Homo sapiens: one gene and its partners. The protein of the gene in region 1 purifies or fractionates together with the protein of each later gene. This does not show direct contact. Each region holds a gene or a part of one and is shown on either strand. Other genes may lie near its edges. The genes, in order: DOCK5, MADD, DDX11, C5orf34, RAB3GAP1, KIAA0232 and ELMO2.

What was found.
Region 2: the proteins of DOCK5 (region 1) and MADD purify together in Homo sapiens (affinity purification with mass spectrometry; 2 studies listed by BioGRID and IntAct, with this or other methods). This does not show direct contact.
Region 3: the proteins of DOCK5 (region 1) and DDX11 purify together in Homo sapiens (affinity purification with mass spectrometry; 2 studies listed by BioGRID and IntAct, with this or other methods). This does not show direct contact.
Region 4: the proteins of DOCK5 (region 1) and C5orf34 purify together in Homo sapiens (affinity purification with mass spectrometry; 2 studies listed by BioGRID and IntAct, with this or other methods). This does not show direct contact.
Region 5: the proteins of DOCK5 (region 1) and RAB3GAP1 purify together in Homo sapiens (affinity purification with mass spectrometry; 2 studies listed by BioGRID and IntAct, with this or other methods). This does not show direct contact.
Region 6: the proteins of DOCK5 (region 1) and KIAA0232 purify together in Homo sapiens (affinity purification with mass spectrometry; 2 studies listed by BioGRID and IntAct, with this or other methods). This does not show direct contact.
Region 7: the proteins of DOCK5 (region 1) and ELMO2 purify together in Homo sapiens (affinity purification with mass spectrometry; 3 studies listed by BioGRID and IntAct, with this or other methods). This does not show direct contact.

What each region holds. Positions count from the first base shown.
Region 1 is NC_000008.11:25,187,689-25,191,188, reverse strand, and holds part of DOCK5 (dedicator of cytokinesis protein 5), read right to left. Parts: intron 1-3,500. UniProt on the Homo sapiens protein: Guanine nucleotide exchange factor (GEF) for Rho and Rac. GEF proteins activate small GTPases by exchanging bound GDP for free GTP. Along with DOCK1, mediates CRK/CRKL regulation of epithelial and endothelial cell spreading and migration on type IV collagen.
Region 2 is NC_000011.10:47,276,633-47,280,132, reverse strand, and holds part of MADD (MAP kinase-activating death domain protein), read right to left. Parts: intron 3,402-3,500; coding exon 3,270-3,401; intron 1,969-3,269; coding exon 1,855-1,968; intron 1,135-1,854; coding exon 1,054-1,134; intron 1-1,053. UniProt on the Homo sapiens protein: Guanyl-nucleotide exchange factor that regulates small GTPases of the Rab family. Converts GDP-bound inactive form of RAB27A and RAB27B to the GTP-bound active forms.
Region 3 is NC_000012.12:31,080,360-31,083,859, reverse strand, and holds part of DDX11 (ATP-dependent DNA helicase DDX11), read right to left. Parts: intron 48-3,500; coding exon 1-47. UniProt on the Homo sapiens protein: DNA-dependent ATPase and ATP-dependent DNA helicase that participates in various functions in genomic stability, including DNA replication, DNA repair and heterochromatin organization as well as in ribosomal RNA synthesis.
Region 4 is NC_000005.10:43,505,149-43,508,648, forward strand, and holds part of C5orf34 (uncharacterized protein C5orf34), read right to left. Parts: coding exon 3,429-3,500; intron 2,050-3,428; exon of another isoform or gene 1,247-2,049; coding exon 600-1,246; intron 1-599.
Region 5 is NC_000002.12:135,160,292-135,163,791, reverse strand, and holds part of RAB3GAP1 (rab3 GTPase-activating protein catalytic subunit), read right to left. Parts: intron 1,238-3,500; coding exon 1,141-1,237; intron 1,045-1,140; coding exon 941-1,044; intron 807-940; coding exon 691-806; intron 1-690. UniProt on the Homo sapiens protein: Catalytic subunit of the Rab3 GTPase-activating (Rab3GAP) complex composed of RAB3GAP1 and RAB3GAP2, which has GTPase-activating protein (GAP) activity towards various Rab3 subfamily members (RAB3A, RAB3B, RAB3C and RAB3D), RAB5A and RAB43, and guanine nucleotide exchange factor (GEF) activity towards RAB18.
Region 6 is NC_000004.12:6,876,727-6,880,226, reverse strand, and holds part of KIAA0232 (uncharacterized protein KIAA0232), read right to left. Parts: coding exon 3,470-3,500; intron 1-3,469.
Region 7 is NC_000020.11:46,396,616-46,400,115, forward strand, and holds part of ELMO2 (engulfment and cell motility protein 2), read right to left. Parts: intron 2,157-3,500; 5' UTR 2,082-2,156; intron 1,405-2,081; exon of another isoform or gene 1-1,404. UniProt on the Homo sapiens protein: Involved in cytoskeletal rearrangements required for phagocytosis of apoptotic cells and cell motility. Acts in association with DOCK1 and CRK. Was initially proposed to be required in complex with DOCK1 to activate Rac Rho small GTPases.

The DNA of each region.
Region 1 (3,500 bases):
TTTTAATTTCATGGACCCCCCCCATTCTGAACGTGTCTCCAAGACCCCACATGTCCCTGGAACATACTAAAATAAAGGGTTCAGAATGGTACCTCACAAGAGAAGTTCTCAATGAATACTAATTCTCTCTTCCTTTTGTTCTTAGCCTCAATGCTGTTAAAACATGACCAAGTTCAGGAGATCAAGACCATCCTGGCTAACACGGTGAAACCCTGTCTCTACTAAAAAATACAAAAAATTAGCCTGGCGCAGTGGCGGGCGCCTGTAGTCACAGCTATGCGGGAGGCTGAGGCAGGAGAATGGCGTGAACCCGGGAGGCGGAGCTTGCAGTGAGCCGAGATCGCGCCACTGCACTCCACCCTGGGCGACAGAGCAAGACTCCGTCTCAAAAAAAAAAAAAAAAAAAAAAAAACCCATGACCAAGTTAAGGCCAGGCCTTCTTCGGGTCATTATAATTATATAATATCCGGTACAGTGTTATGTGCAAAGAGGTGGTCAACAAGTATCACTGTCTTGCTCAGATGGCACTGTAACTAATTAGCTATGTGATCCTCAGCCAAGGATACTTAATCTGTTAAATCCAGAGGATCCACGAACTTGAACAAGAAAAAAGTTACATCTCTATTTTCTGACATTCAGCACTCACTTTAATTACGACTGTAGCCAATAAACCGCAATTGCACTACTAGCGCCTGTGATACTGTCACCAATAAAACAGGGATTTTTATATCATAGTATGGTTACTGCAGATATCTTGAAAAATCATATATGCTCGTGACTAATTCAAAATTATGCTAGTTATTAGACCTGTCACTAGATCTTGGTACTTTATGCATTAATAAAGAAGTACATATACTGCAGTATCACGAACTTTGAAAAACACCTTCACGGCCTATTTCAATACGGCTGTTTTCATTTTCTATCCTTTGTAATTTACTTAATTTTTATTTCTACAGTGACTTGGAACTTTGTATCGTACTTTATGCATTTAAAAACATTCTGGGCCAGGAGCGGTGGCTCACGCCTGTAATCCCAGCACTTTGGGAGGCCAAGGCGGGCACATCACATGAAGTCAGGAGTTCCAGACCAGCCTGACCAACATGGTGAAACCCCGTCTCTACTAAAAATACAAAAACTGGCCGGGCGTGGTGGCGTGCGCCTGTAATCTCAGCTACTCAGGAGGCTGAGGCAGGAGAATCGCTTGAACCCAGGAGGCAGAGGTTGCAGTGAGCCAAGATTGCACCACTGCACTCCAGCCTGGGCGACAGAGCAAGACTCCATCTCAAAATACAAACAAATAAGCAAACAAAAACACAACAAAAGCCCAAGTCTGAAGTCAGTCTTAAATCAGCATTCAAAGCTCTACTCCGTTAAGTCAGATGCTTCTAAACAACTAAAGAGCTTTAAACAAGTAAACACCTGAAGAGCTAACTAGTAATATTTCCCAAAACTGCCTTTTGTTACATCATAAAAATATATGTGATCACAAATCCCAACATGCAACAATGAGCTACTTTTCAAAGAATAAGGCTGGGTGTGGTGGCTCATGCCTGTAATCCCAGCACTTTGGGAGGCTGAGGCAGAAGGACTGCTTGAGCCTAGGAGTTCCAGACCAGCCTGGGCAACATGGTGAAACTCCATCCCTACAAAAAATACAAAAATCAACTGGTTGTGGTGGCACGCACCTGTAGCTCTCAGCTCTCAGCGGGCTGAGGCTGGAGGGTCACTTGAGCCCAGGAAGTTGAGGCAGCAGTGAGCCATGATTTTGCCACTGCACTCTATCCTGGGTTACAGAACGAGACCCTGTCTCAGAAGAAAAGAAAAAAAAATCAGCCAGGCTCATGGCTCACCCCTGTAATCCTAGCAACATGGGAGGCTTAAGGCTGAAGGAGCACACGAGGCCAAGAGTTCCAGATCAGCCTGGACAATATAGAAAGACTCCATCTTTAAAATGATTATTTTAAAAGTTTAATATTTTAAAACTTAAAAAATCAAAAAACTTAAGCCAGGCATGGTGGTGCACACCTGCAGTTCCAGCAACTTGGAAGGCTGAGATGGCAGGTTGCAGTGAGCTATGATCATACTGTACTCTAGTCTGGGCTGTGGAGTGAGGCCCTGTCTCAAAAAAAAAAAAAAAAAAAAGAAAGAAAGAAAGAAAAGAAAAGAAAAAAAAGCTTTGCAAAGAATCCATAGTCAACCTAATCTGGGGCTATTCTTTACATAATGGCTTGTGTGGAAGCAAACTTAAAAATAAATGTTTTTATAATCAGACTATTCTGGATATTTATCACTAATGTTTGCTTAAAAGTGTTTTATATCTTCATATGCTCAAACAGAAAAAAGAGAGAGAAAAGAGAAACAAAGAAAGAAAAAAGATGAGAAAAAAGCACATTTTCCACGTCTCCAGGGAAGAACACTTAGCCACTGAGCACTTAACACTGGGGTACTAGAGCACCATAAGTTTAAAGAATCAAATAGATCAGTCACTTCACTTGATAACACACAGAAACCATTGAGATCCACTTAATGCTAGAGCCTGAGCCAACACTGCTGTTTAAGAACTAAGAAAGCCCAGACAGGCTGCATTTCAGTCCCTGTAGAAACATCTAGGATATGTCAGGAACAGCCAAGAGTGGCACCAAGATAAAATATGACAGTAGCGACTGCCAGCTTCAGCAGGCACAATTCATACTGAGTCCAAAGCTCTATCCTCACACAGACTAGCTCTGCAGAGGCACACTCCTCTTAGAGCACAACAGGCAAAGTCATAGCTAGCTCTGAGTCATCCAAATGCTTCAACATGACTATCCTACGGTTCCTTCATCCAGAAACCAAATCTGACCAGTACACACTTAGAGAAGTCCAGAAAGCCAATTTTCCCAACTATATTTAAGAAAGTCTGTCTGCTCCATGCTTCCTTGTTTTCTCAGCAGAATATCTCATTCTCTTACTTGCAGAGATAAAGACAGAGTGGAGGCTCTCCCTTCCTCCATCTAACCAAACAAAATTCAACTCATATTGGGGTGAATGAGATGTTATGCCTAATGGGAAGAAAAAGAAGAGGAAAAAACTGCATTCAATTACCAGACAAGCTAGGTTAGTGTACTTTAGAACGGCACCCCAACATCAAGGACAAGCAAACTGAATGCACTAATACCTGGTACACCTGTTGAGTGCTAGGAATACAAAACCACAATGGTCTGATTCACTGAACCCAAGGATGGCACAGTCCAGGAACTGCGAGGAAGAAGCAAGGAGGTTTGGGACAGTCTGACAAATAGCAAATTTGAAGAAGGGAGTAGGAATGGATTTGAGCCCTCAAGGAAAGGTGAGCTGTCTGAGGCAGAGTTGGGAGGGCACTCCTGGCAGGGACAGGCACAATGGGAGCAAAGTCCCAAAGGAGGGACTCTGCAGGGTATGTTGCACAACAGTGGGAAGGGCAGTTGGTCTGCATTGGAGAGCTAGTGAAAGAAGCCTCGAGAGATAATGCTGAAGATAGG
Region 2 (3,500 bases), on another chromosome or scaffold:
AAATCAATCAATAAAAAATGGATGTGAGGAATTACTCAAAGAAAGGAATTTTTTTGTTTGTTTGAGACTGAGTCTCACTCTGTGGCCCAGGCAGGAGTGCAATGGCGCAATCTTGGCTCACTGCAACCTCTGCCTCCTGGGTTCAAGTGATTCTTCTACCTCAGCCTCCTGAGTAGCTGGACTACGGGCGTCCACCACCATGCCCGGCTAATTTTTGTATTTTTAGTAGAGACAGGGTTTCAACATAATGGCCAGGCTGGTCTTCAACTCCTGACCTCGTGATTCACCTGCCTCGGCCTCCCAAAGTGCTGGGATTACAGGCATGAGGCACCGTGCCCAGCCAAATAAAGGAATTTTTGAAGAAAGGAACCCTCAGGATCAACTCTAGAAGATAATATAAAAGCAGCCAGACGGTCCACACTACTAACTTCCACCTAACAAGACTGAGAAAATCGGCCGGGCGCAGTGGCTCACGCCTGTAATCCCAGCACTTCGGGAGGCTGAGGCAGGCGGATCATGAGGTCAGGAGATAGAGGCCATCCTGGCTAACATGGCAAAACCCCGTCTCTACCAAAAATACAAAAAAATTAGCCGGGTGTGGCGGCGTGCGCCTATAGTCCCAGCTCCTGGAGAGGCAGAAGAATGGCGTGAACTCAGAAGGCAGAGCTTGCAGTGAGCCGAGATCGCGCCACTGCACTCCAGCCTAGGGGACAGAGCAAGACTCCACATCTCAAAAAAAAAAAAAAAAAAAGACTGAGAAAATGTTCTGAAGCCATAGAGAGTGGCACACATACAAGAAACAGAGAGTGAAGGGCTATTTTATACAGCATCATAAGCATTAGAAGATGGTAAAGCATACAATGAATTGGAATCAAAAACAGAAATTCACTCTGCCACCCAGAAATGGGATACGCGTTTTCTTAAGCCCATCCAGGGTGAAGAAAACTACTCCACTTGAAGTTTGATAGGAAATTGGCTCTGAGAATAGCTGTCTTCTTATAGGAATCCCACAGCATCTAATACTCCCCTTTCTTTCCTTCGTTCTTCACCTACCTGCTTTAAATGCTTTTTCAGCTCTAGTGATTCTGGTTCTGGCAGGATAGGCAGCACTTCTGCATTGGTGGGGGCAATCACCTGCACCAGAGAAATGATAAAAGACGTGACCTTAGAGTTTATTGCTCAGGAATTTCACTTACATAAATAAAAATAAGAGGACGTATATACATTATTATTATATAAACGAATATACATTATATAACTGCACAGTAAGATATATGTACACACATATATGACATACATATGCATCTGAAATGAAATATAACTTAATGTTATTGGTTATTATCTCTAGATAAAAGGATTATGGTTTTTCTTTTCACTTATTTTATTTACGCTTATTTTTATTTTTTTTAAGTTTTACAATGAGCACACATAAGGGCTTCCCACCAAAGTCTGAATGTATTCACATTGCAGAATGGTCATATAATTAATTAAGCCTGCACTGAAAGACAGTTTCTTACTGGAAACTATACCCCAGGGAAACCATTAAGAGATGATCTATACCACATGTAATGGCCCTCAGATCACAACTGTCTGACTGCTCTTGGAGGATATGGTGGGGGGTCACTTAATTCTGGCAAAAATAAATCCTGTAATTCTCTGAGACCTAACCAAGGGTTTATTTGGCTAATAAGGTAAAAGGAGCATTTAAAAAAACTTGTTTCAGTAAGTCTCGCAATAGAAATTATCCAACAACTTAGGACGTTCCTGAAAGGAATCTAGAAACAGATATCTCAGGACTGGGTCTAGAATGCAATCCTCCTCTAGACTCTACAATGCCTCAGCCAAGAACCTCACCCTATTGCTGTCCAGATCCACTAGCCATACATCATCAGGCATTTTGAAGTCCAGTTTGTAGAGGAAGAAGCTGGCAGGAACCCCAATGATGTACGGGGTTGGAGCCAACAGCAGCTGTGGAAATGATAAAGAAGGTGAGAAACAAAGACAAAACCTATCATGAGCACTTATCAAGTCTGGATTCTTCTAGATAAGGAAATGCAGATACAATCCCTCTTCCAAAACTCTTGAGGCCAGATGTATTTGAAAATTCAGAATTTTTCAGATTTTTTGAAAGGTAACATGGTACATTTTTTTGTATACAGTAGTCTTTCTTATCCACAGTTTCACTTTCTGTGATTCCAGTTAACTGAGGCAAACTGTAGTCTGAAAATATTAAAAGGAAAATTCCAGAAATAAACAATTCATAAATTTTAAACTGCAGCTTGATCATATCTGAAGTGCAGGACAATAGTTCTGAGAAGCATGATGAAATCTCATGCTGTCCCGCTCTGTCCCACCCAGACATGAATCACCCCTGTGTCCAGCCTGTAGCCATCTCGGTTATCAGATCAACTGTCACACAATCTCAGCGTTTGTGTTCAAGTAACCCTTATTTTACTTAATAATGGCCCCAAAGCACAAGGGTACTGATGCTGGCAATTGGGATATGCCAAAGAGAAGCCAAATATATGTAGAAAGAGGCTGGGCACGGTGGCTCATGCCTGTAATCCCAGCACTTTGGGAGGCTGAGGCAGGCGGATCACCTAAGGTCAAGAGTTCAAGACCAGCCCAGCCAACATGGTGAAACCCCGCCTCTACTAAAAATACAAAAAATTATTTGGTGTGTGGTGGTGGCAGTGCCTGTAATCCCAGCTACTAGGGAGGCTGAAGCAGGAGAATCACTTGAACCTGGAAGGCAGAGGCTCCAGTGGGCCGAGATTGTGCCACTGTACTCCAGCCTGGGGGATAGAGGGAGACTCTGTCTCCAAAAAACACCAAATATATGCCCAAAGAGAAAACTGTTACTCTCTTACTGTGTCTAATTCATAAATTAAACGGTATCACCGGTATATATGTATAGAAAAAAACAAAGTATCTATAGAGTTTGGAACTATCTGTGGTTTGAGGCATCCACTGGTGGGTCTTGGAATGTGTCCTCCACAGATAAGGAGGAACTACTGTATTACGTAACACACGTAACACCTGCTGCAGTGTAGCCAGTGGCCTACAGTCATTAACATTTGTTGTGATAAATGAAAACTAAAATAGCATAAGCCTTGCCACCAGATCAGTTCAAATCAGTCAGATTTTGTAGACAAATAAGTTATGACAAAGGATTGAGGACCAGCACTCACTTACAACTTCTTTGAGCATTAAGCCTCCTCCCTCAGGAAGACAGAGGTGAGAAAGCCGGAAGTCGCCTTGAGACTCACCTGCTCTGCTGATGCCATGCAGGTGGGTAGCAGCGGGATGACAGGAAACATATACTCCAGTGGGTAGATCATTGCCACGAATGCCATCACAGACATGGAGAGTGCATTGTAGTCTCGGGACTGTAGCACCACCTGTCATGAGCCATCCAGTAAGAATCACTCCAAAACATAAAATATGGTTTACAAGAAAACAGCTTCCAACATTACAACTTGGTTTCCACTTCATCGAGC
Region 3 (3,500 bases), on another chromosome or scaffold:
TCACGGAGCCAAGAGAGGGCCCCACAAATAAGACTTAAGGACTTCCCCTGCAGGAAGAAAAATGATCTTTAGAAACAGGAAAACAACAAAGCCTCCCAAATGACCTTTCCCCATTTTAATAAAAGCTTGAAAGAAGGTCTGGCTGTACATAGGAGAGGATGCTCTAAGACCAGCCTAGGAAAGGAAAGGAAGGAAATTAGCACTAGAATAGCCAGGAAAAACAGAAAAAAGAAAGAAATGGAAACTGGGCCCAAGAAGCAGGAAAAAGCTTCTTTAATTATCCAGCTCACTGTTCTGAAAACAAATTTGAAGCAGTTTATCAGATTCTATGTAAATATCGCACATAATTAGAAGAAGGGGAGACATTAGACAAAAAGTCCCCTAAAAGAATTAAGGCCCCAAAATGCTGAGCAAGAAATCCCAGGTACTCGCCAACAGGGAGCCAGAGTGACCGCGCGGCCTTCGTGCAGCTCGTGCGTGGATACAGGATGATCAGTCATGAGCGCCAGTGCTTACGGTTTGTGTTTTGTTTTGTTTTTTTTTTTTTAAGCAAACTAATCACTCTGGAAGACACCACTCTGTCTGTTTTTGAGAGGAGGTCTTGCTATGTTGCCCAGGCTGGTATGGAACTCCTGGGCTCACACAGTTCTCTGGCCTCAGCCTCCCAAGTGGCTGGGACCATAGGTGTGCGCCTCCATATACAGACTGGAGAACACTACCCTTGACTTAAGACCAGAATTTTCCATAAGCCTGATTGAGTTGTATTCCTCCAAATTCCTGTGTTGAAATCCTAACCCCCAGCATCTCAGAATGTGGCCTGATCTGGAAATAGGACTGTCGCAAATGTAATTAGTTAAGATGAGACTACTAGGACGGGACCCAGCCTAAAGGGCTAATATCCTTATTGGAAAGGGGACACGTGGATGCAGACATGCACAGAAGGCAGGCGATGTGATGATACCCAAGGAGAACACGCCACCTATAAGCCAAGGAAAGGGGCCTGAAGAGATCTTTCCCTCACGACCCTCAGAAGGGACCAAGCATGCTGACACCTTGATCTCGGACTCCAGCCTCCAGCGCTGTGGGATGTCAGTTTCTGTTGTTTAAGCCCCAGTTTGTGAAGCTTTCCTCTAGCAGCCCCAGGGAACCAATACAGTTCTTCCAGAGAGGACCCTTCAGGGAGCGCCACAAGGAGGCGGCCCTGGTGTCCACAGGGGAACTCAGCTCAGGGGAGTCTCTGGAGGACCCCATGCCTTCTGCTCCAGGCAGTCAGCTCTCTGAGCCTGCTGAACCCAGAGGGGATCTCAGAGTATCCAGGGCGGGGTGAAACACCTCGTATGACTACGGTTGGGGCAGCAGCGCGGCGCAGGAGTCAGAGTCTCAAACTCCACAGCCAGGTGCCAGGGTTCCAGCTGTCTCCCCCACCTGCAGCTCTGTGGCTCAGGCTGGCCTCACTACGCTTGTTTCCACGAGTGCAGAAATGGAAATGACAACAGCGGCACCTTCCTCATAGAGCTGGTGCAAGCAGGACATTAACACACACAAAAGGCCAAATCCTCTGGATTAGAGGATTACCTGGCAAATAACAAGTGAGCGGTTGGAGTTAGCTAACTTTTTGCTATCATTAAGTAATAATAATAAAATTATTAATAGCATTATTCTGGAATATGGGATCTATTAGTTTTCATCAAAATCTTGAAAGGCCCTGGGATAGGATAGAATGACATTGTTGACAAATGGATGGATCCCATATTTTTAGGAAAGCCCCATATGTACCATTTCCCTCAGCTTTTGATAGAAAGTAAATGGCAAAGAGTTCCAGGCAGCATTTCCCAGCAGCACCTGGAGGGCGGCTCTTCTGTGCTGTCTGTGATATCGGAAGCAGTCAGCTTCAGCTGTCACTGGGCTGGGAGACACAATGGTTAGAAAGCCAGTGCCCTCCATTTGAAAGTGAGCTGAGGAAGTTCCTAAGGGTATGGTCAAAGTTATCTTTCAAAAACAACCGTGGTATACTCCGGCACAACAGCAAAAGAATAACTGAGGCCCACTGTTTTCTACATCGTGTAATAAGACCACAAAACTTTTAGACTGGAAAATGTTAAAAGGATTTATAACCAAAGGCTCACCTTCCTGGGGTATCATCAACAGTTACATGATTTATGCCAAGATAAGCAAATTCATTCACTCTGAACACCTGCTGGTTGCAGCAAGCATGGGGCTCAGAGCTGAGGACACAAAGGTGCAGAGCCCCTAGAAAATGCTCACAGGTTCACATGTAACATACAATTCGAGGGCATCATAGATCCCCGCAAAGCATGCATTCCAGGTTGGATGACTCCCGGAACTGCAGTATTACACAAGGCACAGCACACACCAAGTGGTAATGGTGACTCAACTTGATAGACCTGTATAAGGCTTAAAAGGTGACTATCAAGGATAAACAGCATCTGGGGCAGCTAAGGTGGGGCACCTGTGCATCCACGGCGGGGAAGGGCATGGTAGGCACAACAGGTAACACAAACCCCACTCAGGGTGTCCCACAGCATGGCTGCTTCTATGGGCTGCGGGACACCCAGGACAGGAGAAAACACTCTATTCAGGAGATGATTTAGAAGACAGAAGAATGTCAAAGGTAATAAAGCCACAGGGTACATTCACAGAGACTGCACACAAGAAGATGAAGCTATAGAACCAGAAACATCGACAATTAAAGGCTGAGCAGAGGAAGAAGACGCAGAAGCCTGGAGTGCAGAAGACTGAGATGGAAAGACCTGAGAGGGAGAAGATGGGTTGTCAGGCTAAACAAGGTGAAAGGGGTCAGGTACAGTGGCTCATGCCTGTAATCTCAGCACTATGGGAGGCCAAGGAGGGAGGATTGCTTGAGCCTAGGGGTTTAAGACCACCGGCCTGAGCAGCATAGTGAGATCTCATTTCTACAAATTAAAAAATTAGCTAGGTGTGATGGTGCACACCTGTAGTCCCAGCTGCTCAGGAGGCTGACGTGGGAAGATCACTTGTTGCCAGAAGGTTGAGGCTGCAGTAAACCATGATCTTAACACTGCACTCGGCCCTGGGCAACAGAGCAACACCCTGTCTCTAAAATTAAACAAGGCAGAATGAACATGCACTCATCTGTGTTCCAAAGCACACTAAAATTAACCAAAGTAATATGGAGGCTTACACCCACAAAAAGAAAGTGGAAGGAGTAATATGTTTTAGGAGAGAGGGAAAGAAGGCAGAGACATGGAAGTGATTTCGGCAGAGACACTCAAGCCCAAGTGTCCCCAGAGATCTCCCCCACTCATTCTCAGAAAGACTCAGGAAGTGGTAGGAACACAGCAGGCCACTGAAAACAAAGGGACGGGTTGAAATTCTTTTTAAGAACAATTAGATTCTCAGGTTGCAATCCCTGCTCCTGCTCCTTGCAGAAGACAGGAAGTGGGCTCTAAGTGGAAGCTGAGCTAGGAGAGCCCTGGAGGCAACCGGCAGATTGAGGAGGC
Region 4 (3,500 bases), on another chromosome or scaffold:
TATGCAAAGTTGATGTTACAAATCTACAATCCTTAGTGGAGTTAAAAGTTTTATACTTAGCCTTACAGAAGCCACTCCGTGTGTACCCCTTTTGAAAACAGACGTATTTATAGTCAGTGAACCAAAGACACGGGTAGCCTCTGAAGCTAGGTATGGACAAAAGAACTGTGTCAGATCCACACTCCAGCAAGCAAGGTCACGGGCTCCAGTGAGCGGCAGCAGGTGCTCCCCTGGGCCCACAGAGCCCTGTGCAGACTCCTGTCCCATCATTTAGCATACTTTAATAATCTTTTTAGGTACAGTGACCTTCACTAGATTCTAAGTTGCTATAAAGCAGGGACTGTGTCTTAGTCATCTCTGCAGTTACTGGACTTAGCACAGTATCTAGTGTAGAGTCAGCCTTCTACATTCAATGCATGGACACAGAGTAAAAAACATAAGCAACACATTTGCTAGGGAAATTATTTACTATCAGTTAAAAGCAAAATTTTGGATGAGATAAACTTTCCTTGTGAATGGTATCAGATAAAAAGAAAATTATCCAGGTTAAGACTGGTTCTGATAAAAAGCTTCATGACCAATAGCCATTACTGCATTACCTGTGTAGGTGTGGGACTGGACAGCTGAGTGACAGGGCCCTGGGAAGAACAGAAACCACTTTTCCTCTTTCCTCTGAAATATCAGAAGTTAAAAATCTACTCTGAGTTATATGTGCATCAATTTTAGACATATTGCTGATTTTATTATGAAAATGAAGTGCTAAAGACAAAGGATATTTCCATTCCTCTGGACAGGCAGCCACAGACCAGCACTGCTTGACCCATGTGTATACACATGTGTGCTTTGTACCAGGCGAAGGCAGCTCTTCCCTCCCTTCAGTTCCATTTACACAACTCATCTTCTTTAAAGTTTCTTTGGATTTCATGATCTGGCAATGAAACTCATTTTCTTTATTCTTCAGTCTCTGTCCTGGTAAATTTCCACGTATACAGATTTTGCCAGTTTTTTCAACTAGTTTATCTTTTGGGGCTTTATTATTTGTTTCTGACAACACTGCAGATGAGTCTGACTTCTGGCTAACTTTACACAAAAAATGTACTGTAAATTCATGCTGAGATCTGGGCAGGCAGAGGTATGCATGACCATCTAAAGATGTTATCTTCACAATGCCACTCTCCATATATATCATGGTACCATCTGTATCAAGACTGGGCCATCTCACTTCTGTTATGTCAATGAAGATATGCTGCAAGGAGAGGGGAAAAGAGACGGTGAGTATTTTCTGTTAACAGTCCAATTTTTCCATATATTTGATATTTAAGTATTGTGTAAGAAAGCTCTTAAATATTTGTGTTTTACTATCTACAGAGAATGAAAAAATGGAGGGCCAGATCTCAGCCTATATATGATTTTCCAGAGAATGTTTGATATTGTTAAGATTATCACCCTTAAAAAAAAGAGATGTAAAACAGACACAAAATGAGAGAAATGGTCATATTTAGTGTTAAATGTATTTTGGTTTTAAATGTACAATGAATTAAACAGATTTGTATCCCTCCCCTCACCCTGCAAAAGTTTACTCTGAAAAAAAACTAGAAATAAGGGAAGACCAACACTATGATACATTATATTAAAAGCAATCATAGCTAAAAATTTTTCTTTAAGTTTTAAATAAAAAAAAAAGCAACCATAGCTTAAATGGTACAGGACTACCATAAAAATTATTGACAGAACAACTCAGAAAATTCAAAAACAAACTCAATCATATCTTAAAATTTACATGAGATAACATAAGTTTTTCAGAGCAAGAGGGAAAAGAGAAAATTATTTAAACTAGTACTAGAATTACTGAACAGCATTTGGGAAATTCTGTCTTGCAGGGTTATCACATGAACCAAATAAGGTAACATGTAAAAAGTACCCATCCTAGGTAGTACCTGGCACACCATACACTAAAATAAATTTCAGGAGGCTTAGAGGAAACTTTAAAAAAGTTTAATTACTCAAAGAAAAATTGATTCTGACTAATAAAAGACTCATAACAAGTAACAGTGTTGATTGTGACTTTTCATATAAGATATAAACAGTAGATATTGCGTGAGAGGTTTTTACTGAATTAATTTTGCCAAGCATTTAGCATTTCAATTCCATTTATGTAAAATCTTACGTTTACACAAACTATTGTCAAGAAAGCTTCCTAAATTTACCATGCTATCTATATGTACGATGTTAGGACACTAAAATTGAGGGCTGTATTTACTGACAGCAAAGCTGGTTTGTAAGGATGGTCATCAAACTCCTCTTTTAGAATTAGACTATCTAATAATCCTGCTGCAGCATCAGCAACAAGCTAGGCAGTTTCAGTGAATAAAGTGACTCAAAAGACACAATGGAAAATTACCATTCTAGGCTAAGTTACAACTTATAATTTTTTATGGCTCCTTTGCCACGAGACAATATAAAATTACTCAGCCGGCAGGCAAGCATCTTGACAGCATAGAAAGGTAGCAGAAAGTAGTTGAGAAACAGAGTTTACAGAGTCAGATAGACTAGGTTCAAATCCTGACTTTGCCACTGAGAAAACTGCCATAGACAAATTAGGTAAACTCTCTAAGACATAATTTCCTTGCCTATAAAAAGAGGCTGCCGGCCGGGCGCGGTGGCTCACGCCTGTAATCCCAGCACTTTGGGAGGCTGAGGCGGGCGGATCACGAGGTCAGGAGATCGAGACCATGCTGGCTAACATGATGAAACCCCGTCTCTACTAAAAATGCAAGAAATTAGCCGGGTGTGGTGGCGGGTGCCTGTAGCCCCAGCTACTCGGGAGGCTGAGGCAGGAGAATGGCGTCAACCTGGGAGGTGGAGGTTGCAGTGAGCCGAGATCGTGCCACTGCACTCCAGCCCTGGCGACAGTGTGAGACTCCGTCTCAGAAAAAAAAAAAAAAAAAAGAGGCTGCCATCTAGCCAATATACCTGTTTTGATTGGATGGACATCCATTTTGATCAGTATGGTGTTATTAAATATTTCTAATATTGTTCATAGTTGTTGGACATAGTAAACCCTCAGTAAATGACAGTTATTATTCCTAAAAGTCCAAACACAATACTATATAAGCAAAATAATAAAGGTCATACCCATAGTTACATATTTCTACTATACATTAACAAATACGCTGTTACTGAAAATGGTCACATAATTACTTAATTTTGAGACCTCTGAGAATGAAAAAGTCACCAATCTAAAAATTCTGATTATAATGCTTGGATACAAAGAAAATGGCAAGGGGGATACACTATGTAACTTTGATGTTTTATAGCAATGTATCCCCAGGTGTCCTGAAAAGGAAAAAAAGGCTAAATATTAAATTACCTGTTTCTAGTTACTTGTCCTCAAATAATACTAACAAAAATGAAGTTAAAAAAATCACCTTTTTTCTTTCAGAAGGTATGATGGTTTCAGATAAAAAAGGGCAAGTAGCTGAAGAGTTTCGAAAATCTAG
Region 5 (3,500 bases), on another chromosome or scaffold:
TAATGAAAATTTTTAAATGATGACAAATTTAAGCCACTGAACAAGCTAATTTGTGAACACTTTATCACACATTAAAACAATATTGTCCTTCCAAATAACATGGGCAAAAAATGAACAGGGCCTCACACTGATCTAAGCTCCATTGGTAATGGTGCCGAGTCTCATAAAGAGAATGCCCCAATCATTTGCTTCATCTGAGAAAAGCCATCTGGTCAATCTTTCAAAACATAATCGCAAGGCACATAGGATGTGCACCTTTGCTATCACAAATCTTGTTTAAAATAAACAACTAGGAACAGTAAGCAGAAATGGTTTCAGCACCTGCACCCTGTGGTCAAGGAATAGTAACAGCTGAAAACAAAGTTTTGGGGCAGGGTGAGCAACACAGTTAACAGCTCCTCCACAAGAAATTCCAGACACCACATCTCCAAGAGCAAACCAAGGAATCCCTAGAAAAGGAGGCTCTGGGAGACTGTTTCTAAAAGTGGGAAGAATGGAAACACCTGGTAGAGACTCAGAAATACGGGAGAGGTCAAATGCTATGATAATTATTTCTGTCTCTAGACAATGCTTGTTTCAAATAATATATGATTACCACAAAAGAGTCTTAATATCCTATTACAATTTTTCTTAAGAGAGTGGTGGCTTTTCCTACTGCAGACAAAACTGAATTAGCCAAATAGCAATTACCTTTCAAGATCTTCCTTTTCCTCCTCCTGTTCACATTTCTCAGTTCCAAACTTGGCTTTTAGTGACCGAGCTCTGGCAATGAGAGCTTCCACATTAGTAATCTGGTGAATGATTTCCTGGCGGTAGAAAAGGAAGAGGCATACATTGCGAGATGGCAAAAAAGCAAAGCCCTTTGAAAACGCATCTTAAAAATTATTTTTGCCAACTGAGGAGAACACTTGGCAAGATTCTGACACTACATCAAACTTACTTCCAATTTCTTGTCTTCTGGATTGGGGAAGTGCAAAACTTTACTGGAATGGGATATTATCTGCTTTATGATCTTCTTAACTGAAGAAATGTTTTCGAGACTTTCTATTTTAGAAAAGATTGAAGCCAGCATTAAATAAATTAAGCAAAATATACTTTCACTTTGGAAATGACTAATGACTAGTTAAATATGACATTTACCTTCTTCCTTTACCTTGAGTACAGCTGCATGAATCACACAAGGTAACAGGTGCCGAGCAAGGTCTGCAGGTTTCTGGATTGCCAGATAGTGCAGCACCTGAAGGAGGTGCAGCGCACACAAATGATCAGCGCAGGTGTCAAAGGATGAAGCAGCCACTTACAGAAGTGCAAATCCTCAGCCACTCATCTTAATCCTTAACAAGACAGCACTCCAGATAGGCAGCCACGACCCCAAAGGTGAGGATAATGTTACTGAAAGCACCTAAGAACTTCAATCTTTAATAATTATAAATATTCTATTTTTTTCTGCTTTCTTATGTAATACACACAAATAAGGAAAATACAAAGAAAATAAAAACTACCGACTGATTACAATACCAAGAGAAAACAACCATTGACAGTGGAGCATTTTCATTTTAAGACGCAGAATACACGTACTAAGGGCACTAATATTAAATATGTAAAATACTGCCTTTTAACCTGCTTTTCTCACTTAATATTTCTAAACATTGTTAGTGACTTCCCACACATTTTTTGGTTTTAGTTGTTTTGGTTTATTTTTTTTCCAATTCTTATTATAAGAATACAGAGAAGTATGTACAAAACATGGACCCTACCTTTAGGCTCCTTATTCAACAGTAAAGATAAAAGAAGTATAACCCTATAAATATGTACAATTCTTTTACATCAATAAAAATTTTAAGAAGTATAATCTCATAATGTGAGTCTGACTGATAAATGCTCATGGATTTCAAAATTTTAAAAAAAATACAGGTGATGCAGAAATTTTCCTGAAATCCTACTTCCCCAAAACCACATTTTCGTGTTTATCCTCTCAAACTACTTGTATGTCCATTTAAACACAAAAATGTAGATGCATATGTAATTTCTTAACAAAAATTAATAACTTACATACTGTTTTATTATTTGCTTTATTTAATGACTTGTGGTGGACTTTTTTTTGGCTTAGAGAGTTTTGTCTGATTTGAAACTTTTTTTAAATTAAGAAATATACATACTAGAGTATTAGAAATAGTTTAAAGAAAACACCAGCTTAGGAAACAGAATGTTACCAGGCTTTTCCAAGTCCTCCTGTGTACCCTCCATCCCCAGAATTAACTACAAATCATTCTTTTGCTTTTCTTTATGGTTTTTTTCACATATGTAGCCTTAAATAATATATTGTTTACTTTTGTCTAGTTTTAACCTTTATATTAATGGAGTGTTTCTGTTTATAGCCCTCAGTGACTTGCTTTTTTTCATTCAGTATTTTGATATTCGTATACCATTCCAATATGCTATAGTTTACTCATTTTCACTGCTGTATTAAAATGTTCCTACACTAATAGTAGTGGATAGCTCCTCAGTTTTTGGCTATTACAAATGATGCTCCTATTACATTATTGCACATATTTCCTGGTGCAAATGGGACATGTACAGCAATTACTTTAGGATATATACCTAACAATTGAACTAGGAAATGTACAACATAATTATCCTACAAAGTGTTTCAACAGATTTACATTCTTATCTAGAGTAATGAGTTCCCTCTGTTGTACATCCTTGCTAATACCCACCTTTCTGAATTTTGTTTTCCCCTGATTCACAGAAAAACAAATTTGCAGGAATAACGTGAAATATGTGATTCCCCTTTACCTGGATTCACGTATGACCTGTCTCCCTCCTCTGTTCTGGATCCCTTGCATCTTTCTCTGCTTTCATGTGTGTACATACTATAGACATAAACTTGTTTCGAATAATTTCAGAATAAGTCGCACACTCATGTCCCTTATCCCAAAATATCTGTATTTCCTAAAATTAAAAATATTTTATTATATAATCAAAATGCAAATGATTCTGATTATATACAATAAATTTAACACTGATAAAAATAATTGTAATCTAACCTACTATCTTTATTGCAGTTTTGTCAACTGATCCCATATGTGTCTTTTTTTTTTTTTTTTTTTTTTTTTTGAGACAGGGTCTTTCTCTGTTGGCCCAGACTGGAGTGCAGTGGTGCGATCTTGGCTCCCCACAACCTCCGCCTCCCAGGCTCAAGCGATTCTCCTGCCTCAGCCTCCTGAGTAGCTAAGACTACAGGCACATGGCCACTACTGCCCGGCCAATTTTTGTATTTTTAGTAAAGACGGAGTTTCACTATGTTGGCCAGGCTGGTCTCGAACTCCTGACCTCAAATTATCCACCTACCTCAACCTCCCAAAGTGCTGAGATTACAGGCATGAGCCACCGCGCCCGGCCGCAAAATGTGTCTTTTATGACCCTTTCCCTCAACCACTACAAGTCTTGGTAAGGATCATCCATTGCCTTTAGTTATCATAGCTCTTTAATCTCAACTA
Region 6 (3,500 bases), on another chromosome or scaffold:
AGTTTGCAGTGACACAGTACAGATGGTGAGGGGACACTGCAGACCTCTGTGTTGGGAAGGGAGTTTGCAGTGACACAGTACAGATGGTGAGGCGACACTACAGACCTGTGTGTTGGGAAGGGAGTTTGCAGTGACACAGTACAGATGGTGAGGGGACACTGCAGACCTCTGTGTTGGGAAGGGAGTTTGCAGTGACACAGTACAGATGGTGAGGCGACACTACAGACCTGTGTGTTGGGAAGGGAGTTTGCAGTGACACAGTACAGATGGTGAGGGGGCACTGCAGACGGGTGTGTTGGGAAGGGAGTTTGCAGTGACACAGTACAGATGGTGAGGGGACACTGCAGACCTGTGTGTTGGGAAGGGAGTTTGCAGTGACACAGTACAGATGGTGAGGGGGGGCACTGCAGATGGGTGTGTTGGGAAGGGAGTTCTTTGGAGAAGAGGCCCGCTCAGCTGAGAAGCCAGCCATGCAGAGGTGCCAACACTCTGTGGTGTCGGACTGTCTCCCCTACACCAGATGGTCAGCATCTCTGGACCCCAGGACATGAGATGCAGTGGTGGCCCCTCCTCAGTCACAGTCATTACAAAGCTCCCCTCACCCTGCCATAGTAACTAGCAGCACTCCCACCTCATTTCCAAATGGCAGCATTGCCCCTGGTTGAGAACCCCTGAGGCAGAAGCACAGAAAAGCCACACAGAGTAAGGGGAGAGCAGAGACAGATGAGGTCAAAGGCAGACGGGGGCAAAACATACAGGGCTGTAGAGGCGTGGCGGGGAGTTTGGATCTGTCTCAAATGCAACAGCAAAGTGACATCATGGTTAGCAGTATGGGTCCTAGAGGCAGACTGCTGAGGTTCAGAGTTCAGGTCCACACTGAAGCTGTGGCTCTCTGGCCTCGGATACACGGCGCCTGATGTTTTTGTGCTTCACTTTCCTATTTTGCAGAACAGGCATGACAACAGTACCTACCTCACAGGGTCGTTGTGAGGACTGAACAAGATACTGCTCGTGAGGTCATTCTGTCTGCTGTGTGGAGAGAAGGCTGGAAAGGATGACGAAAGCAGGAAGGACAATGAAAAGACCATGGCAGCTGTTCAGGAGCAGGGACAGTGGCTTGAACAAAGTGGTAATGATGGAGAGGAGGAGAAGTGGGAGATGCGAAGTGGCTGACAGCGGGGAACGGTCAGGACTGGCAGGCAGACTGTGTGTGGAAGATGAGAGAGAGGACTGGGGAATATGTCTCAGTTTGGGGTTTGAGGCTGGAGGGATGATGTGAACTAGTCACTGAGGAGAGAGCTGGTGGGGGCCTCAAACATCTGCCTTCATGTGTGGAGCCGGACAGGTCAGTGGGCAGCAGGACGTGGACGATGATGCTACAGGTGCTTGGGCAGACAGTTCTCACAGGACTTGAATGGACACTGACAGATGGTTAATACTGAGTGTCAACTTGATCACATGCCGTGTGATTCAAGTTAACGGGAAACTACAACAGCCCAGTCCAGACAGGATACAAATGGCTCAGACTCTTTAGGAATGAAGGTTTAGGTCACTCCACCGGGAAAAAACCACAACCTGCTGAGGTGCTTGCTGAAGGCAAAGGGAATACAGAATGGGTAGTAGAAGAAGGTAGTCATCAATACCAGCTACGACCATGTGACCAGGTGCAGAAACCAGGACTGTAATTGTCTTGAGGAGTATTTCCTCCTTCGTTAAAAACACGTTTGTGCATGTATACACTTGTACTAAGAAAATCTCATTTTATTTTTTGTCCTTTATCATGTGACACAAGATTTATGTATGTATATATTTATGTATGTATGTATGTATGTATGTATGTATGTATGAATGAATGATGGAGTTTTGCTCTGTCACCCAGGCTGGAGTGCAGTGGTGCGATCTCAGCTCACTGCAATCTCTACCTCCTGGGTTCAAGCAATTCTCCAGCTTCAGCCTCCCAAGTAGCTGGGATTACAGGGGTGCACCATCACGCCCGGCTAATTTTTGTATTTTTAGTAGAGATGGGGTTTCGCCATGTTGGCCAGGCTGGTCTTGAACTCCTGACCTCAGGTGATCTGCCCACCTTGGCCTTCCAAAATGATGGGATTACAAGCGTGAGCCACAGCGCCCGGCTGACATAAGATTTATTGACTTCATATCAGCATTTAAGTATTGTTAACTCTATGTAATAGTACTTGGGTTTGGGATTGGTGCTTTTCCGGTTGTATGAAGCATAGCTGTATTATGTTAGGTATAATTATGACCTTATTGTCTTTATTTGAAGATTACATATAATTTCAGGAGATGTGTATGGGTTCAAATTGACAAGGGGTGGACTTGTTATGGTTAATACTGAGTGTCAACTTGATTGGATTAAAGGATGCAAAGTACTGATCCTGGGTGTGTCTGTGGGGGTGTTGCCAAAGGAGATTAACATTTGATCCAGTGGGCTGGGAAAGGCAGACCCACCCTTCATCTGGGTGGGCACCATCTAGTCAGCTGCCAGCGTGGCTAGAATATAAAGCAGGCAGAAAAATGTGAAAAGACTAGACTGGCCTAGCCTCCCAGCCTACATCTTCTCCCATGCTGGATGCTTCCTGCCCTCGAACATCGGACTCCAAGTTCTTCAGTTTTGGGACTGGGACTGGGACTGGCTCTCCTTCCTCCTCAGCTTGCAGATGGCCTATTGTGGGACCTTGTGATCGTGTGAGTTAATACTTAATAAACTCCCCTTTGTGTATATATATACCTATTCCATTAGTTCTGTCCCTCTGGAGAACCCTAATACACTGACAATTCACACCAAATAAAAAGAATTTTCCTTAGGTTCATTTGCCTGCCTGCCTCTTAACCGGGGAAGGTCTAAGACGAGACTAAACCAGGCGGAGGCCCCGCTCCCGCCTTCGTGGTGCCCACAGGCTTGTGGAAGAGGCAGACATGCAGAAACGGAACGCAAGTACATGCTCTGGCTACAGCAAGAAGAGTCGTGCACAGAGTGCAGGAGGACACGGAAAGGGCGGGATCGTTCTGCAGAAGCCGGGACAGCGGCAACAAGCACACTGGCAAGGCTGCCTCAGGGTGCACTTTCAAAGAGGACAAGGCTAGGTCTCCCACTTATTAGGTAAACAAAAAAAAAAAAGATGAAAAGTGTGCCCACCCAAGGAGCAACAGGGTCAGCTCTGCATTTGTAATGCAATGCCCTCGGGCAGTAGTGTAGAGCCAAGACTGGGGAGAGAGCTGGGGATTCTTCAGGAAGCACTGGCAGTCAACAGTCAAGGGGGTTTGGAAGCGGGGGAGAATGCAGACTCAGAACAAAGGCCAGAGAACAGGAAGTCTGCACCCACAGGCCTGGCTGGTTCCTGGGAGAGGTGGGGTCCACTCACATGACTCCCAGGTTTTTGACTACAGTGACAACTGGAGGTGGTGGCTGTTTGTAAGTTAATGACGAGGAGGAGGACAGTCCACTTACCCTATTAAAATCTAACAGGCGCTCTTCATTA
Region 7 (3,500 bases), on another chromosome or scaffold:
AACTATACGATATGACTTTTTAGATCATTTGTTTAGTTTGGCTTCTTCTTATTTTTAAAATAAGCAGGCACAGAAGGTACAACAGAAAGAACACTGGGCTGGGATAATTGTCCCTGCTGAAACAAGTGACTGGATTTAGAACCAAAGGCCTCAGGACCCAATCCTAGGTCTTTCACAATGTATACATGGCCCTTTAACCAAATCTCAGTTTTCTTCTATTGAAAGATGTGAGTGTAGAACTAAAGCATGTCTCAGGTGCCTTCTAAGTCTAAAAGTCCATGATTCTTAAGTGGAATTTAAAAAATCCAAGTGAGGATGCCCATTTTAAAGTCCTTACCAAATGAAGTTACACCCTTCCTTAATTTCGATGGTGCTGCTAAGAAACAAACCCCATGATTTTTAACTCCTTTCTGAACGCCGTCTTTGGAGATTAAGCTAAAGCTCATTAGGTTATAGCTATTATTTTCTCTTGACCCCATATGACATATCCTAGATTGACTCTCTCTTTATTAAAGTTAGCCCTGAATGATTCTCGGCTGTTCAAAAATTCGTATACATTTTAAAGCATGGAGATTTGCAACCACCAAACTATTTGAAAGATATTAATAAGCCCCCATTCTCAGTGACTCTGTCCTTCCCACAAAGCCCAGGCAGCCTCTCTGAACTGAATGACACTCTCCACAACCCTGCCATAGCTGATGGGACTAAAGTGAATACCCAACTTTAGCTGAACTATTCCAGTTCTTTCTCTTGAATTTAAAAGACAGAGACTGGCTGGGCGTGGTGGCTCATGTCTATAATCGCAGCACTTTGGGAGGCCAAGGTGGGTGGATCGCCTGAGGTCAGGAGTTTGAGACCACCCTGGCCAACATGGCAAAACCCCGTCTCTAGTAAAAATACAAAAAGTAGCCAGGCATGATGGTGGGCGCCTGTAATCCCAACTACTCGGGAGACTGAGGCAGGGAGGACAGCTTGAACCCAGGAGGCGGAGGTTTCAGTGAGCACAGATTGCACCATTACGCTCCAGCCTGGGCGACGGAATGAGACTCCATCATAAATAAATACACACATACATACATACAAACAAATAAAAGACACAGACTAAGGGAACTGGGTGATAATGACCCTGGAGAAGTAAGATCATAGTAAGCTTCAGAGCGAATACCATGGCAAGCCAAAGATCCGTACGAGCCAAAGATATGGAGAATAAAAAACCAAGAGCCTTTCAGAGGAAGTGATTCTGCAGGAGGAATCCATAAATATCTAAATGAACTGAGGCCAGAAATCAGAAAGAGATGGAAAAGCCATTACCTGCTAACTTTCCAGATTATGTGGCTATTACTTCCTATGCTCGGGGTACCTGAAAGTCCACTGTATCCTGCCAATAAAACTCCTATAAATTAAGCTAGTCTATGTTTCTACTCATTGCAACTAATACGCCTAAGACCACAGCTGCCCCCAAGCTCTGCAGGAACTCTAAAACGGAGGTCTGAGCAGACAGCAGCATCACTAGCATATGATGATGGTACTGGGTAAGCACTTAATTAACAATGGCTGAATTAATGAGAGCAAAACCCATGGGTTTGCTCTTACCCACTAGATAAGTCTGATTTGTTTGAAACAGATCGGTTATATGGTAACTTCATAGTAATCATATATCTAGTAGTAACGTACAGGTAGCCTCTTTATTTTTATTTTTTTAAATTTTTTTTAAAAGATGGAGTCTTGCTCTTGTCGCCTAGGCTGAAGTGCAATGGCATGATTTCAGCTCACTTCAACCTCTGTCTCCTGGGTTCAAGCGATTCTCCTGCCTCAGCTTCCTGAGTAGCTGGAATTACAGATACTCACCACCACGCCCAGCTAATTTTTGTATTTTTAGTAGAGACGGGGTTTCACCATGTTGGCCAGGCTGGTCTTGAACTCCTGACCTCAGGTGATCCATCTGCCTCGGCCTCTCAAAGTGCTGGGATTACAGGCGTGAGCCACTGTGCCCAGCCCAGGTAGCCTCTTTATAGTTGATTGCTCACTTCTATATCATTATTATAGTTGATGCTCATAAGAACTCTGAAAAACATTCCTACCTTACAGGTAAGGCAACTGAAGTTCAGACGGATTGACAAACTTGTTCTCCATGTACCTCTTTCTACACCTCCCTCCTAAAAGAAGGAAGGAAAGAAAAAAAATGAAGGGAGGGAAAAGAAATAAAACTAAATCAACCCAACACATCAGAACTGGGTCTCAAGCCTAGGTCTTAGGACTCCAAAGCGAGTTCTCATCGCTCTATATAATACTTCCTTAGATGATGACATTAGCTAGCAATTACATAATGCTAAGGCACTATTTTAAGGGCTTTACATATATTAATTCATTTAATCCACACAGCAATGCTGTGTGGTATGTTATTATCCCCACCTTAGAGATAAGAAAATGGAGGCACAGAGGAGTTAAGTAGAAGGCTCAGTGTCACATAGCTAGCAAGTGGCACAGCCAGAATTTGATACCAGGTTGTCTGGTGTTGCTGGAAAGCCATGAGAAAGCAGGTGGCTCTGCACCTGACCCGCAGCAGGTGCTTTGTGGAGATTTCTGGTTTGTGTATCTGAAACCAAAGCACACTGAGGCTAAGAAACCTTCACAGCAAGAACTCACCATTGTAACAGAAGACAGCTCTCCACTGTCTACAGGTGGGCCACACTCCCTCGTGTGCTATTTGGTCCTTTACAATCTAGCCATCCTGGACTACGGGCTATTTCTATAAGGCAGGCCATGTTCTTTCAATTCTTCTGTACCTTTGCACATTCTCTTCCTCCTACTGACTGTCAGAAGAGCTCCTATTCAAGCATCAGAGCCTAGTTCGGATGTTACCTCCTCCTTGTACTAGTCTTAGCTTTCTCTACTTTCCCTGGCAAAAGTAAATAGGACAGGGGCCTCTGTGTTCTCACAGCATCCTGTTCATACTTCCGTTAATGAGTACGATTTTGTCATACTCTATTACAGTTACATATTTACACATCTCCACTAGCTCCTCCTCCAGAACAGGTATAACTCTGCAGTCTCATAACCTAGCACAGCACTTGGTGTCCAGTGAAGGCTCAGTAAGCACCTGTGTCTGCTTAAACCCAATGGCTCTGATTTCTTCCACTCCTGTGAACCAGGCTGGCTCCAAACAGACAGGGACAGGCATGAACTGTGCAGGCTGTCTGGTGTTCCCTCTGCGTCCCAATACCCTCTAACTACACAGTATTTCCATTGTTTAACAGTTTGTTTTGGCTGGGCGCAGTGGCTCACACCTGTAATCCCAATGCTTTGGGAGGTCAAGGCAGGAGGATCACTTCAGGCCAGGAGTTCGAGACATTTCTCTACAAAAAATAAAAATTAGCTGGGCATGGTGGCGTGTGCCTGTAGTCCCTAGCTACTCAGGAGGCTGAGGCAGGAGAGTTGCTTGAGCCCAGGAGTTCGAGGCTGCAGTGAACTATGATCATGTCACTGAACTCTAGCCTGGG